Linked DNA regions of Homo sapiens: all the other regions are linked to region 1. The links come from fine-mapping of genetic effects on gene expression. A gene starts in region 1. Each other region holds a variant in brackets. All regions are shown on one strand. Distances are from middle to middle. Region 1 holds the start of SAYSD1 (SAYSVFN motif domain containing 1). Region 2 overlaps GLP1R (glucagon like peptide 1 receptor). Region 3 has its middle 29 kb from the start of SAYSD1.

Evidence for each region. PIP is the estimated chance that this variant, and not a neighbour inherited with it, causes the effect.
Region 2: its variant is fine-mapped to the expression of SAYSD1 in B cells (Fairfax 2012, PIP 0.95). The same link has a PIP of 0.9 or more in monocytes after muramyl dipeptide.
Region 3: its variant is fine-mapped to the expression of SAYSD1 in whole blood (TOPMed, PIP above 0.99). The same link has a PIP of 0.9 or more in blood mononuclear cells.

What each region holds. Positions count from the first base shown.
Region 1 is chr6:39,112,371-39,117,597 of GRCh38, reverse strand. SAYSD1 (SAYSVFN motif domain containing 1) reads left to right here and starts at 2,412. Exons shown (of 2, transcript NM_018322.3): 1 at 2,412-2,715. The coding sequence starts at 2,509. It also overlaps the pseudogene ANKRD18EP. RefSeq lists an enhancer at 2,529-2,818.
Region 2 is chr6:39,090,486-39,095,712 of GRCh38, reverse strand. GLP1R (glucagon like peptide 1 receptor) reads right to left here. Exons shown (of 13, transcript NM_002062.5): 13 at 4,410-5,227. Among named protein-coding and RNA genes, the nearest start is that of MIR9983, 19 kb to the right of the region's middle. The variant C/T (reference allele first, on the strand shown) is at 3,011.
Region 3 is chr6:39,141,432-39,146,658 of GRCh38, reverse strand. No RefSeq gene overlaps it. Among named protein-coding and RNA genes, the nearest start is that of SAYSD1, 29 kb to the right of the region's middle. The variant G/A (reference allele first, on the strand shown) is at 2,950.

The DNA.
Region 1 (5,227 bases):
CTTAATTCTATACACCTGCAAGATGCGGGCCTAAGGTCTTAGAGTCATTATCAAGTGGGAGACAAAATCGGTTAAAGAATCCCATCTCTCAAGAGAAGCAGACATACTCCTGACACCAAAATGGGCAAGAAATTTCCTCTTGTGGTTTCTCAAAGAGAGGACATTGTGGTGTAATAATCCCATTCTTTTCTCTTACAAACCATCTCTAATCCACTCAGGGCTCAGCCCTCAAATCTCTTCTTATCCACACTCACTGTTTGATCTTATCTAGTCTTACAGCTTTAAATATACACATGCTGATGACTCCCAGTGTGTGCCTCCGGTCCTGACTTTCCCCTCAAATCATTTTCACTATCTAACTGCCTATTTTTTGGATATCCAATAGGCATCCCAAGTTCTTTGTATGTCCAAAACAAAACTTCCAGTGTTTATTCTGTAATTCTCTCCTCCCAGTGTGCCCTCATTTCAATAGAGGGCCCCAGCATCATTTGCCTGGTTGCTCAGGGCATGTGTGTATGTATATGGGGGGGCAGGAGGAGTGGGGTAGTAATGGAAGAAACCTGTCATCCTTTTTTTTTTTTTTTTTTTTTAATAGCGATGAGGTCTTGCTATGTTCCCCAGGCTGGTCTTGAACTCCTAGGTTCAAGCGATCCCCCTGCCTTGGCCTCCCAAAGTGCTGGGATTATAGGCGTGAGCCACGATGGCTGGCCCTGTCATCCTTGATACCTTTTTTCCTCACATTCCACATCCAATCCGTCTCACACCATGTTGGCTCAGGTCTTCAAAATACATTCAGAATCTGACCAATTCTCGTGACCTCCATCACTACCACTCTAGCTCAAACTACTACAGTTTCTCATTCTACCATATTTATTCCTAACTAGTTTCCCTTCTTCTATTCTTGCAATCTTCCAGGGTCCCACCTCCATCAGCCAGTGTAATCCTTTAAAAATATGTCATATCATATCATCTCCTGCTCAAAATCCACTAACTGCTTCCCACCACACTTAGTCTTCACCATGGCCTACAGGGCCTTACATGCACGATCTTGCCCCTGGCATCTTTATTTTCTGTCACTCTTTCCTCCCTCCCTCCCTCCCTCTCTCCCCCTCTCTCCCTCCTTCCCTCCTTCCCTCCCTCCCTCCCTGCCTCCCTCTCCCTCCTTCCAATCCAGTCATAACAGCCTCCCTGATGTTCTGTGAACAAGTCAAGCGTGCTATTTGAGGCCTCGGGACCTTTGCACTTGTTCCTCTGACTGAAACACTCCTGTTCAGATATCTACATACCTCACTCATTTAAGTCTATGCCCAAATGACAAACCTTCAGGGAGGTCTTCTCTAATACCTCCACCATTGCCTACTTTGCTTCACTTTTCTTCACAGCACTTATCAGTACCTGATATGACATGAAATATGTAGATACACATTTGTTTATTGTCTGTATTTCCATTTGGAGTGTAAGCTCTAAGAAAACAGGTTTTTGTTTGTTTTTTCCTTTCATCCCAGCATCCCCAGTGCCTGTGACTTTAGACAGAGCAGGCCCTAGGTAAACGTCTGTTAAATGAATGGATGACTCTGTTCTAATTTGTCTAATTTCTCGAGTCACCCTCAGCCAGATCCAACAAATATTTGAGTCTTAATTATGTAAGTGACACTTAGCTAGATGCTTACAGCTTTAAGAACGTATAAAACAGCCCCTAACCTGAACTGTGTCCTTTTGGGAGGGTACTGATTGGGAGAGGGCACAAGGAAACTCCCAGAGTACAGAAATGTTCTTTCTCTCCATCTGGGTGGTAGTTACACAGGTGCATACATAAGAGCAAATCTACTGAGTCATATTCTTAAGATGTGTATTTTATGTTGCACCCCAATAAAAGTTTTTGTTGTTGGTTTTTTTAAGGTTCTGACGTATCTAGACACAAAACGAGATAATTTCCCAACGTGGCAAGACCAATGATGGAGCTGCACAGCCTGCTTTGTGAGCAGTGAGAAAGTCACCCTCCAGGTACTAAGATTGGCATACCCTTTCCTTGATAAGAGAAAAAGGGTAAGATGTAGCCTGTTATTCCTCTGACGCTGGAATGTCGTAGAGATCACGGGCCTCTCCTAACCCCTGGAACCATCTTCTCACTGTGGCGCTGTTCATTGGGGCCCAGCAACAGAGATCCCGAATACAGGACGCTGGATCAGTGGGGCCTCGAGCCCTTAAGTGAGATGCAGCAAGGCAGAGCGGCCTTTGGGAGAGGGCAATGGGGCAGCCCTGTGCTTTAGACTTGGCTTGAGGAGGTGACACTGTGTCCACGTGCCTGTGAAGAGAGAACGGCTGAGTATACACGCGACCCGCCAGACTTCACAAACGGAGGAGACGCGGGTCACACCAGTGCGCATGCTCAGCAGGGGCTTCTGCCACGCAGGCGCACGGCGGCCGGCGCGGGCCGAGCGGAGGCAACTGCTGTGCGGCCTGCGGGCGCGCGCTCCCTTATCGGCCAACGGACGCGAGGCGCGCGCCATGGAACAGCGGTTAGCTGAGTTTCGGGCGGCGCGGAAACGGGCGGGTCTGGCGGCCCAACCCCCTGCTGCCAGTCAGGGCGCACAAACCCCAGGAGAGAAGGCGGAAGCAGCAGCGACTCTAAAGGCAGCCCCAGGCTGGCTAAAGCGGTTCCTGGTATGGAAACCTAGGCCCGCGAGTGCCCGGGCCCAGCCCGGCCTAGTTCAGGTGAGACGATGGAAACTTCGGCCCTAGGACCTGGCCTCGGAGCCACAGTCGAGGGCGCGGCCCTAGCTGCCGGGGGTGTGGCCCTAGCTGCCGGAGGCGGGGCTACTGGCCCCCCATCCTGATCGAGGGCCGGACCGCTCATCTCCGGCCACACGTGTCAGCACTGTTACCAGTTTTGACATTTTCTTTCCAGCCCGCGACCCACGCAGGTCCTGATTCCAGCGAGAGTCGAGGGTCCTGGGAGAAAGCACCTCTGCTCTTAAATTATTCACTCCGAATTGAGTTATCGTGACGCCCTGTGGCATTGGGAAACCTCTCCACAACCAAGTTGAGCCACAGCCCTCTGCTAATGGAGGAGGGTAAAAGGTCTAATTGGATACCGATCACAAGTAGCAGTAATTAAAACTTCATTTGATTCGCACCTGGGGCACATGCAGCTAGTAGCCCAGATAGCCTGTGACTTAGAAATGCGTTTGAATACAGAATTTACCAAAGTGTGGTAGCTGTAACTGCCGGTAGTGGCAGAAGCTTATTCCAGTTCCATAGTGAATGTTCAAGACACAAACAAAAAAAAGTGATTTAGTATGATAACCTTTTCACATTTAATTGTTTTGGTAATCTCTTGTTTTGCAGATGAATTTAATTTGCATCCTTTTGTGTTTTCATTTAGTTTTAACTCAGTAAAATGGTAAGGTGGCTTGCAGTGAGGTTGAAATGTCTATGTGGAAATACAAGACAAAACATATCAAGGGATGAGTGCTTTGTAACAATTTGTGCCCAGTGCTTTGTTCCTCATAAGTGCAATAAGAACTAAAAAATTCCTTTTAAAATGAAAATATACTGGAAGAAAAGTGTACCTTGCTCACCTTAAAATTATTTCCTGTAAGTTCATCTATTATTGCACAACATTTGATTTGAGGGAATTTTTAAAAATTACTGAACCTATTACTCAATTTTGATTTGATATTCTCAGTGATATACAGGATTCCAGCTGACTTGCAGAAAGGTGAAAAGAGCGCAGCAGAGTTCAGACAATCCATTTCCTTGTGTGCAGTTTGTGTTAATTGTCTTTGGATAATTTTATTGTTGACTAGAACTTTCTAAGTACAACACTTGCTTAAGATTTTAGAAACCATTTCCCTTATTCTTTTTCTCTCTGCAGTTAAAAAACAATGTCTAACCCATGCAATGAACTTTTGACTGTATGTCTCATTTCCAAAGGAATGAGATCATTGAGGTGGACCCAGAGAAACTGAATTCAGAGAAAAACTTCCATTATTGAGAACCCAAACGCTGATTGCCAGACAAAAGGATGAGAGGAAATGCTGGACCTCCAGTTTCTTGTTAATTGCTCTGTTTTTCCATAAGGGACTCTGCCTTAAGCTCATTTTCATTGACTTATCATTTCTGGGTTTGCTCTGGTGTGAAAATTCTCATTTAATTTTTTTTCTTCAGATTCTGCCTCTAGTTTAGAAAAGAAAAAGTCTAATTTACAATTCATGTCAGACAATTTTGATGGCACACTGTGGCCTGTCAGAGATTTCTTTAGCATTCTATTTTTTTAAATTATTTTTAATTTTTGTTTTTTTAATTGAAACAGCTTTATTGAAATAAGGTTTACATACTACAGAATTTATCTCTTTTAACATACAGTTCAAAGATTTTTAGTAAATTTATTGAGTCATGCAACCATCACTGCAACTTTAGAACGTCTCTATCACTCCAAGAAGACCCCTCTTGCACATTAGCAGTTACTACCCATTTCCAACCCCAGCCCCGCACAAATGTCAGTCTGCTTTCTATCTATACATTTGTCTTTTCCGGATGTTTCATGTAAATGGAATTATACAGTATGGTAAACACATTTTTTGTCTATTAATTTTTATATTCAACTAGGTTCAACATGTAGCCGTAGCCAAATATTTTAAATTTTCCTTCTGGAAGTTTGAAAATATTTATCTTTTTTGATACTTACTTCTCCTTCTGCTTTCTCTTTTTCATACTGAAACAGTCTTTTAAATGATTGCATTCATTGATTAATTCCTTATTTTTCCCTTCTAGCAGAAGACCTTCCTTTTCACTCTCAAGACAGCATCCTTGGATATTAATTACCTTTTGTTCATTATCCCCTTTCTTATGAGCACCATCTAGTTGTTGAAGCAACAGATTTTCATGTTGTAGTTGAGATATTCTCTCCTCTACGTAGTCCCACTTTCCAAAGGATTTACTTGGCTTAGGTCCTTTTGTACACTTTATAAAACCAAAACCTTTTCTCTGAGAGAATTTCTTGTGTCATGGAGTTTACTTTTTAGGGTATTGAATTCGAGCTTCGGAAAGTTGCTCAGTTAAAAACTCATTATTATCTTTTAGTTCAGAAATATCAGAACTCATTTTCTTTCTTGTAAAGAAACGTCTTGTGCTCTCTGTAAAGCAAGTTCTAGGTCTCTTTTTGTTTTCACACTTTGATCACACTCACTTATAGCAGCAGCCAGTCTAGCATGGAATGACTCAA
Region 2 (5,227 bases), 22 kb after region 1:
CATAGACAATATATAAGTAAATGAATGAGCCAATAAAACTTTATTGATAAAATCAGGTGGTGAACCATAGTTTACTGATCTAACAAACTAAATATGCTTCTTTCTGCTTTAGGGTTTTCACTGTTGCCTTTTCTGGGAACTCACTCCCCTAGATGATCCTAGGTCTTGCTCCCTTACTCCACTGGGGTCTCTCAGATGTCACTTCATCAGAGAGGCCTTCCCTGACCATCCAGCCTAAAATAGCACCCTACCCCCATATCTCCATGTCCTTTACTGCCTTTCTCTCTCGGTAAATATTTCATTGATTGCTTCACTAATAATATTGATCTTATTTTAATAACTCTTAGAGAAAAGCATATGTGCTGACAGGCAGAGTATTCTTTATATACATGGCAGTTCATTTACAGTGGACCATCTCTAGGGACAGAAATAGCTTTGTTTTGCAGAGCTTGTTTTAATCATTTTTCTTCTAATGACTTTTCCTCTGAGATTTAGACTAAGTTTGGCAGTGCCAAACATATTGTGAAATGGCACCAGATTGGTATGAAACAATCGCCTTGTTCTAGATCCTCATCAATAAAAAAAAATGTCTTTGGCTATTCTGGCTCTTCTCATAGATTATTATCAGGTTCTGTCCCATATATAATTTTCAAAAAACTATTTCTGCAAAGAGGAGCATTTCCTAGACAATTTGCATTTTTCCCAGAATCCTCATGGCCTAATAAAAGGCTGGGCAATGCAGGGTGAGTAGGGGCCCTGTAAGAGACATTTCCTGAAGAAACATGATCATTTTGGAAATTCATGTTAGAATCTGATCGCTTTGGAGGATCCAGCCCCAAGGAAGAGAGAGAAGTCAGATTCTGAAGTTCATGTAAGGTTTCTGTGATCTTGCTGCTATAGCCTTTGGAAATCTACATCTATGCATCATTTTTAGTGCGGCTGAAGAAAGCTGTTCTTCATGTGGGTGGCCAATGCAGAGGGTGCATGAGCCCCACACTTCATTATGGAGATGACTCTAACTTGGGGGTATTACTGGGATTTGGGTGGCTTGGCATGCTCCCAGGAGATATGCACCATGGATACAGAATGTCTCAAGAGCTATTGCATTTCTCATGTAACAAGTGACAGCAAGACTAACTCAGTCATGGAGCCTGAGAGGTAAGGGCCCCTTCCTGCCAGAAGGAAGGTCTGTATTTGAGAAGCAGATGTTGTTCAAGGCTAGGAGAGTGAGTGAGAGCACTGCCGTTACAGCTGATTCTGAGACCCCACGGGTGGCATTCTTTCTGGACTTGTGGCACCACCATGCCTTGTTTGGCAGGCTTCACAATCTTTACCAATTTCTAGAAGGTGTTTTTGTAAATGCTTTATGTAGCTGGGATGTTATAGATGTTTTTCTTGACAGCTGAGAATATTTCAACACAGTATAATTCTTAATGTAACATGGTTCTTTCATATAATGAGTGTACATGAGAAATCTTTTCATCTGTATTTTTTTTTTTTTTTTTTTGAGACGGAGTCTCACTGTGTCTCCAGGCTGGAGTGCAGTGGCGCAATCTCAGCTCACTGCAACCTCTGCCTCCGGGTTCAAGTGATTCTCCTGCCTCAGCCTCCCAAGTAGCTGGGACTACAGGTGCACGCCACCACACCCAGCTAATTTTTGTATTTTTAGCAGAGATTGGTTTTCACTATGTTGGCCAGGATGGTCTCGATCTCTTGACCTCATGATCCACCTGCCTCGGCCTCCCAAAGTGCTGGGATTACAGGAATGAGCCACTGCGCCCAGACTTCATCTGTATTTTTAACTGTACCTTTCCAAAGGATGCCATTGGAAGGACATTGATTTAACTTAACTAGGGGGAAATGTCTTTGCTTTGGTGTGTGTCTCTGGTTTGGCTTCTCTAGTCTCTACTTTTAACACCAGGATTTGAAAGATGAAAGAGCTTGAGGGTGGTTTTATTGTCAAGTAGCATCTAATCGATGGGTAGCAGAGGGTTTTATTAAAGCTGTAAATTCAATTTCCTAGGAATTTTGAAGGTTCAGAAGGGTTCTGGAGGGCAAAAATATGGTAAAACACTGCTTTTTTTTCAGCCAGAAATGTACATAATGGTTACAGATTGTCAAAGACTGGAGCTAAAGGGTAAAGTAACCATGGCCTTTTTGTTGTCACTATTTAGTTTGTGTAGTTGCCAAGTGTGTTTCTAATGCAACCTTAGGTCATCGGCATTAAAAAAGTTTTGTGTAAATATCATTTACTGCCTCAAGTCCTTGCTCTTTCACCCTAAAGATTTGGAAAGTTAAAAAAAAAAAAAAGCCTGCTAATCGCCTCTGGGTGTTACCAGCCTGCATTAGCTCTAAGGCAATCCATCCCTCAGCATGGGACTCCCCAGTGTTTGTAATTCTCAGCTATTGATTTTGTTTGTAGTTGGAGGTTGTACCACAAATAAATTCTAAGGTCTATTTGTCCTACATGAGGGGGAGCCATAGTAATTCATTCTCACATTGGTGCCCAGTGTCAGTGTGAAAAAAATAAAAGTCTTGTTGGATTCACTCTGGGCCGCGGGTCTTTTTCTCTTTCCAAAATCATTGTGTTAGTTAAAATGAGCTTTTGTACAAAAGAAAATATTCTATCACCGCTTAGGATTAGAGAACGCTACAGGGAAAGAGCTCAGATTTATGGAAGATGGAGTTAATAACACTGACTGGAGATAGGGTTCCTAACCTAGTTCCTTGTCGCATGCCACTTGTAATTCTCATTCTTTTTTCCTCCTCTGCAATTTCCTCCCCTCTTTCACTACAGCCCTTTTTCACAGTTAAACAGTCTGCTATTTTTCTTTTTTCTTTATCTACTTATGTTCTGGCCTCTTCATCTTCTCTTCCTCACCTACCCTTCCCACCTTGGGGACACTCAGTTCGACTCCTTCCTTGTAGTCACACAATATTGGATCTCTGTTCCCATCTTCTCCAACCATCTGGCTGCATTTGTCATGTAGTCCAGCTTGTGCTGCTAGTT[C/T]CCAGCCCTCCCTCTCTGCCCCACCAACTATTTCTCTACTTCTGATGGGGAAAACCTCACTGTTTCCAGTCTTTCTCTTTGTGTGTATGTGTTGGGAGGGTGGGTAGGGAAGGAGGGAAAAAGGAAGGACAGAGGAAGAGACAGAGACAGAGATTGAAAGAGACTGAACTGCCATATGTTCATGGCACAGGGTTTTGAGAGGATAATAAGGGAAGGGGACAGGAGTTCTCAAACCTTGAAAATGCTGATATGCATGGCATGTGAGTGAGATCCTTCACAAACTCTATGTGGAACACAGTCTTCCCCATCTGGGGGCAGCAGTCACTAGAATATGGCTTTATATTGCATGTGAGGATGAATGAGTCTGGAAGCCAAGAATTCTCATTTGTCTCCCCAGTGGCTAGGCCTCGGAACAGCAGGGCAGCTCCCCAACCCCCTTTCTTTAGGCTGAGGTCAAGCCCTTATTAAGCCACAGTGCAACCTCAGAGAAAGAAGGTGCACTTCTACCTGATTTCTATTATTTGTAATAGCTACCTAGAAATGTGGTGGTCATTAATTGGTTTGGGTGGATGTTTTCCTGGAAGGTAGGGAGGGGATAAAAACCTCTATTTTGGTCCTGTTAAGTGGAAGGGGAAGGGCACAGAAAGGTAAGAATATCCATAGGGGAGGGAATTAACTCAAAAGCAAGATTGGTGCAGAGAAACAAATGCAGATGTTCCACCTGCTGCTATCAGGAGTTGGCTGTAGGTATAACTTGCTCTCAGGGTAAGAATTATTCTTATGTTTGAAAGGGACAATTACCACAGCTTGTCTAAAAAGCGGATGTTTAAAGATACTTTCAGGTAAGTACACCGACCTTCAAATAGGTGTAGCTGAAATGATGGGGGAATTAGGAGAATCTGCAATTCCTCTGCCCTTCTATAAGAGTGAGTTGCAAATCTGGAGAGTGAGTGATTATTTAAATTGGAGAAAAGTTCATTTTTTCTGAAGATGAATTTCTAAACAGCAGTTCCATTCAAATTCTGTGGCTGCTTTGCAAACAAAGCTTATGCTTTTATGACTTTTTTTTTAATGGATTTAATGGACTGAGTTCATTTAGACAGGAGAGATCGAATGAATGAGCGGAATTAAAATACACATCCATTTGGCCATCAGTTATTGTTTAAGCCACTCGACCACCCAACTTCTCTAATTAAATGACATTGCAGTCCCTGCATAAAGGCTGCGATGGATAAATTAGTACTTGGTGAGTGCTTTGAAGATGAAAATCACGGTGTGAGTAATGAGCAAGGTTTTTTTCCTTGGCTGGAAACGGCATCTTTTGTGTTTTCCCACTGCACTGTGAGTCACCTGGATTGACATTGCAGAAAGCCTCCTTTCGCAAAGGAAGAGCAAGAGAGACAGTAGAGACAGACTTTTATTTGGCTTACAAGGCAAATTAGGAAAGAGTCTGCATCCATTCACATCTGTACAAGGAATTATATGACCTACACATTCGCTACCTATAGAAGCTGGTCCTATTTTGCAGGAATTTATATGTTAAGAAATCACCTGGAAATGATCTTGTTTAAACACTCATGAGGAGCAAACATCCCCCAAGAGCACTGAAGATAGAAATCTATCTTTGTCCCTCCTGAGAGCTTGGCTTACCTCTCTGTTGGTGCATTTAAAGGTTTGCATCAAATCCCTCCAGAACCGATGGGATGCTGGAGTTGGTCTGCTTTGAGGATGGGATGATTATTTTAGTGGAGTAGCTTAGAACTGCAGGTTTGGAGGTAAAGTGTAAACTGTTTGGCAAGATCAAGCACTGGCTGTCTGGGGTGAATTTTGCCCTTCCCTCAATGCCCCCGTTGGCTCCCCTGCAAAGAACTCAACTTTTTATATGTTTCAAATTGTGGTGAGAGCTCTTTTCTCACCACATCTAAACATTCTCATTTAGATATGTTTTTCTTGTCCTGAATTGCTTTGACACAGCAATAATTAGTCATGCTACATTGTCTAGGCTGGCTAATTACTGATAGTTTGGCAGGCCCCGTCAGAAAGGTTGCACCACCCAATGTAAGTTAGGATCCAAGCTGGTGGCTGCCCTGCTCCTCATCACATCCAAATGTAGAATGAGGTGCGTCCTTTTCAGCCCTGACAGCACCTCACTCTCAGCTGCACCCCCAAATTGGTCACAGCTGAAAGAACAGCATTCACAGTATGGCCAGCAGGGTC
Region 3 (5,227 bases), 29 kb before region 1:
GGTTGCAGTAGCCAGACACCAAGTTCCAGTTGTTGGTCACCAGCTTCATGGGCTCACAACAACCATGGTGACAGCAGCAGGGGCAGCAACAGCAGTTCCTGACCTCTGACCTGCAGCTGTGGAAATGTGATCTTGAACCATTAGCCTCGGGGTGGCCCCTGACATCTGATTGCTTGGATTAAGTCTGACTGGGGCTTGACAGAGTGGTTTCTGCTTTGTGCCCTGACTCCTACTTCTACAAAAGACCTCACTAAAAAGTGGCTTCATGATGCTCTCCTCTCTGCATTTACCCAGTAGGTTCAGGAAGGTTCCCTGGATCCTCCTTATCAGGCCCATCAGAGAGAGACAAGGCCCTGTGATTAGAGCTGTCGTGATGACCTAAGAAGCAGAGAAAGAATCAGCAATAGCCAGCCTGGCACAGAACATTGCATTAACTGCATTGGTGCTCTTGCATTGATTTAAAATCTTATCATAGAACAGAGTCCCACTAACCAGAATCTTCCATGAATATGATGTCCTGCCTCTGGATGTTGTTGAGCTCGGGGCTGGGTGTCTGTCTCTCACCAGCCAGAGGGCCCAGCCAGATTTTATTGCATTGCGATATTTATAGCTGTAAACACTTGGGTGCCTTTAAAGGAATGTCTCATTTTAAAAACCCCACGTTTCTCAAATTAGGACACAAACCATAAACTTTTCATCATAGGCTAGCAAAAAGTAGCTTCTTGACCTCCTCTGATCCACTCCCCACTGTAGTCCAGTTTCAGGATGGGGATAAGAAAAAGTGATTTATAAAACTGCCCCCAGCACTGGTAGATGAGAACCACAGACACAAGGTTATTGGGCTGGTGGGTGCTGACTTCATAATGAACCCAAAGTTGAGCCCAAAGTTGAAGGTTAAGAAAACAGAGACAGATGGACCAGGAAACATGAAGACGGACAGGATATGACTGCTGCAGGCAGGGAGGGAAACACATCCTTAGCGTTTTAATAACAACCTCATCAAGTGCCTGCTGCGGATGTTTCACATGTGATCTTATTTAATCCTCACAACAACCCTATAAACTAGGATTATTAATACCATTTTACTAACGACAAAACTGAGGTTTGGAGAGATTAAGAGACTTCCTCCGGGATCCTGGCACAAGCATGGATCCCCCGGGATCCATGAGGTGAATCTAGAGAGTGTGAGTGCAGAGCCTGGCTTGGAACACGCTGTTGATTCTGGGCATGTTCAAAGGTGTTACACCAAAGAAGCAGATAAAAACCAGTTTGGAAAATAACAAGTTTTGGAAATTCTGGGTTAATCAAAGTGAAACAGGTTGGATGTTTTGTGTGCTTGTTTTCTGCTGCAGAACTTCTCAGAGCCTTTAATGATGCTACCGTGCTTTGTGAGTCTTCAAAAAGAGGAGCAATTATGCAGTTCTTCTTGAATACCTTTGAGCGCTGAACACATTTCTCATAGGGCATCTTCAGGGCTTAGTATCCCTCAAAGCACATTTTGGGAAATCCCACTTAGCTGAACTCAGGCCAAACTGTGGTTCATCAGTGTGGCTTGACCTAAGTGGGGGTGAGTATGTGACTGAGATATGTTTGCTTCTGTCTACTGTCCTGCACTATCATTGTAGAGGAGAGCATGGTTGCCTGTCTGAATTCTGGGCCACTAGTGACTCCAGTCCAACATCTCCAGGAAATGTGAAGTGGGTGAGAAAACTGGCAGTGGTGGAAGAGAAGGAGCCAGGAGGCAGAGAGACTGATGGAGAGACAGGGCCTTTGAGAGATGTCCAGGGACAAAGAAGAGTCTTTTCTTTTCACACAGGGTTTATGAAATTGTAATTTCCTGAAACAGTATTCTACATTCAATCTCAGAATATCAAATATCAAGCAACTGAAATGGAGAGAAACATGTGTCCAGCAGTGGGTAGTTTTCAGTGCAGTTAAGAATAAACATGGACAGTGAGTAGCCCACACACTGAGAAGGGAGGTCTCAATGAGAGGGGTTATCATTAGGTGAGTTATGCCAGAGTGCTCATAATTTGTGTTTATTTTTATTTCCTATCCTTCTGATAAAGACAGCTGTTATTTCTACACTGCTTCAGACAGGGCTGGCTACATAATTTGTGGGGCCCAGTGCAAAATGAAAATGCAGCGCTCCTCATTCAAAAAGCAGAACAAAAGTGCTGTTACATATACAAAAACAAAGAGCTTTCTCCTTTCTTCTGCAATCCCTCAACTTGTGGTGCTTTTTATTTGCTATTTAAAGTACAAAGAGGGAGCCAGGCATGGTGGTCCACACCTGTAGTCCCAGATACTCGGGAGGCTGAGGAAGAAGGACTGCTTGAGCCCAGGCATTCAAGAGCAGTCTGGGTAACTTAGTGAGACCCCATTTTAAGTAAAGACTAAGTGATATGGTTTGACTGTCTCTCCACCCAAATCTCATCTTGAATTGTAGCCCCCATAATTCCCACATGTTGTTGGCAGGGTGGGTGGGAGGTAACTGAATCATGGAGGAGGTTCCCCCATACTCTTCTTGTGGTAATGAATGCGTCTCACGAGATCTGATGGTTTCATAAGAGGTTTCCCCTTTCACTTGGCTCTCTCATTCTCTTCTCTCGCCTGCTGCCATGTAAAACGTGCCTTTTGACTTCCACCATGATTGTGAGGCCTAGCCACGTGGAACTGGGAGTCCATTCATCCTCTTTTTCTTTATAAACTACCCCGTCTTGGATATGTCTTTATCAGCAGTGGGAAAACAGACTAATACATTAAGTAACTATGTAAAGAAAAACAAAGAAGCGTAAATTCTTAGCCTAAAGTTTATGATTCATTTTTATATGGTACAGTGCCAGTTTTAGATGCAGATTATTAAACCAAGAACAGAGGCTTCTGAGTGAAGGACTCCGCGCGACCGCACAGGTCACATGCGCGGAAGCCAGGCTTGGCTGCAGAACA[G/A]GAAGAAACATGACTTTTGTTTTCCAGCGTTCAAGCAGCTGGTTTTATGCACTCCAGACAGACAGTGTGATCGGGTGTCTGACATTTACAGTGTTTCTCCTGTGGGAAGCTAGGGTACATTTTTGAGCACCATCTCTGAAAGATTATAATGACCGCTTCATTAGAGAGAGAAAGAGGAGTCTGCAAGAAAAATGTTTCCCTTGCACTTCTTGAAGCTGTAAATGTCACTGCTCATTGTACGGAAATGCTACCAGGGCCAGGGCTGATAAGCCAATCAGGTAGCCTCCGGCAAAGGCATTTCATAAACACTGACTGAAACTGGCCTGGTAGCTTCAGGGCCCAATGGACTACACCAGGTGAGAGACTGAGAAATGGTTTCCTCGGGAGAGAACAAAACACCACCCTTCCACCTAGGAAGGGCAGGGGAGCTGGACATTACAGGAGACAGCTGTTTTCTTTCTAGAAGGTGTGCTGGGACAGAGTTAAGCCTGCATATCTGCCTTTTCCTCTGACTCCATCTTTTCCTGCTACACGAGATATCATGCAAGCATGTTGATGCCTTATGCCTTAATTAGAATTAACGTTCCCAGCCACTGGTGCCTCTTCTTTGCTTGTTTATGAAGTTAACACTTAACGATCCTCAAACTTTATGAGACTTATGTTATTGTCCTCATTTTCCTGATGAATAAACTGAGACTTCAAAGGATGATGTGACTGATGGAGGTCACCCAGCCAAAGTGGGTTTCCCTGAGCCTGGGGGCCAGGTCTGGCTGGCTCCAAAGTGAATCCTGGTCCTCAATCTTTCCCTGCCCCTGTCCATCATCCTGAATCTTGGCTCAGCATCACAGCACCGGCTGTGGATCTGTCTGCGGGATTCAGAGGGGCTAAGGATTTTACTAAATACCAACTGTACACAAACACACACACACATATAAATGGTGTAAATAGATATCTTTAGAGTCTGGGCACATCCCTTTGAATATCCTTCATGGTGGCAAATCTTTTCCTCTGAAAGTATATTTGATTTTTCAAAATGAATGAAAATTATTTGGAGCCTGATAGTTTAGTGGGCTGTGAATTTATTCTGCAGATAAAGTGGTAAAATAGGTAATTGGGATGTGGAAGGAATGAAAGGATAAAGGTCTGTCTGTCTGTCTGTCTGTCTGCGCGTATGCACATACGCCTTTTTTTTTTTTTTTTTTTTTTTTTGAGACAGAATCTCATTCCGTCACCAGGCTGGAGTGCAGTGGCGTGATCTCAGCTCGCTGTAACCTCTACCTCCTGGGTTCATGCAATTCTCCTGCCTCAGCCTCGTGAGTAGCTGGGACTACATGTGCGCCACCATGCCCAGTTAATTTTTGTATTTTTAGTAGAGACGGGGTTTCACCATTTTGGCCAGGATGGTCTCCATCTCTTGACCTCGTGATCTGCCTGCCTCGGCCTCCCACAGTGCTGGGATTACAGGCGTAAGCAACCACGCCTGGCCCATATGCATGTGTTTTACCACCTACCCTGAGCCCAGCATCTTGCTTGGTACTGCTTTCTGCGTCCTTGTCTTATCTGTGTCCACGCTCTGAGGTGGATATTATTATTCCCAATTTCTATAGGTAGAAATTAAGGATAAAAGAGATGAAGTTACAATCCTCCAGTAGTTCACAAAACTGAAACTGGAATCTAACTTGCCTTAAGGGAATGAGAGCCTTTTTTTGGATAAAAATAAAAAATAAAAATAAACAAAAAGAAAGAAGACATTTGTTTCCTCTAAAGCGATGAGATGATTGTCTTATGTGGTCCCAGAACTGGCTCTGCAGATAATTCTAAACCATTCTGAATATGTTTGGAGAAACGGCAGCACCACTATCATAAGAGTAAAATTTCCAAAGAGACTTCTCTAATGGGCACAAACCTCACTTGGCTGTGTCTGCATTATTTTTGTTTTAAATCAGAGAATTTCCTAGTCATGCTTTGGTTATAGTTCTTTAGAACCCAGGCTTTAGGCACTAGAATGAACCCTGGAGATCCGCTTGTTCAGCACCGTCATTCCCGGGAGGCACCCTCAGCTCCGGAGATGAGCTGAGATGAGATGAGTACCTGCTCAGGCGCCCACAATGGCTAGGGGCAGAGCCTTCACTCAACCCAGGAACTTGACAATGCAGTGCTGCCTCCCCACAGCACACCGCTTCCTCCCTCGCTGATACAACATCTTTCTAACAACAATAAACTTTTTTGGGGGGAAATTTCCATGTGTCAGACACCTAAAGTACATTGTCTTACTAAG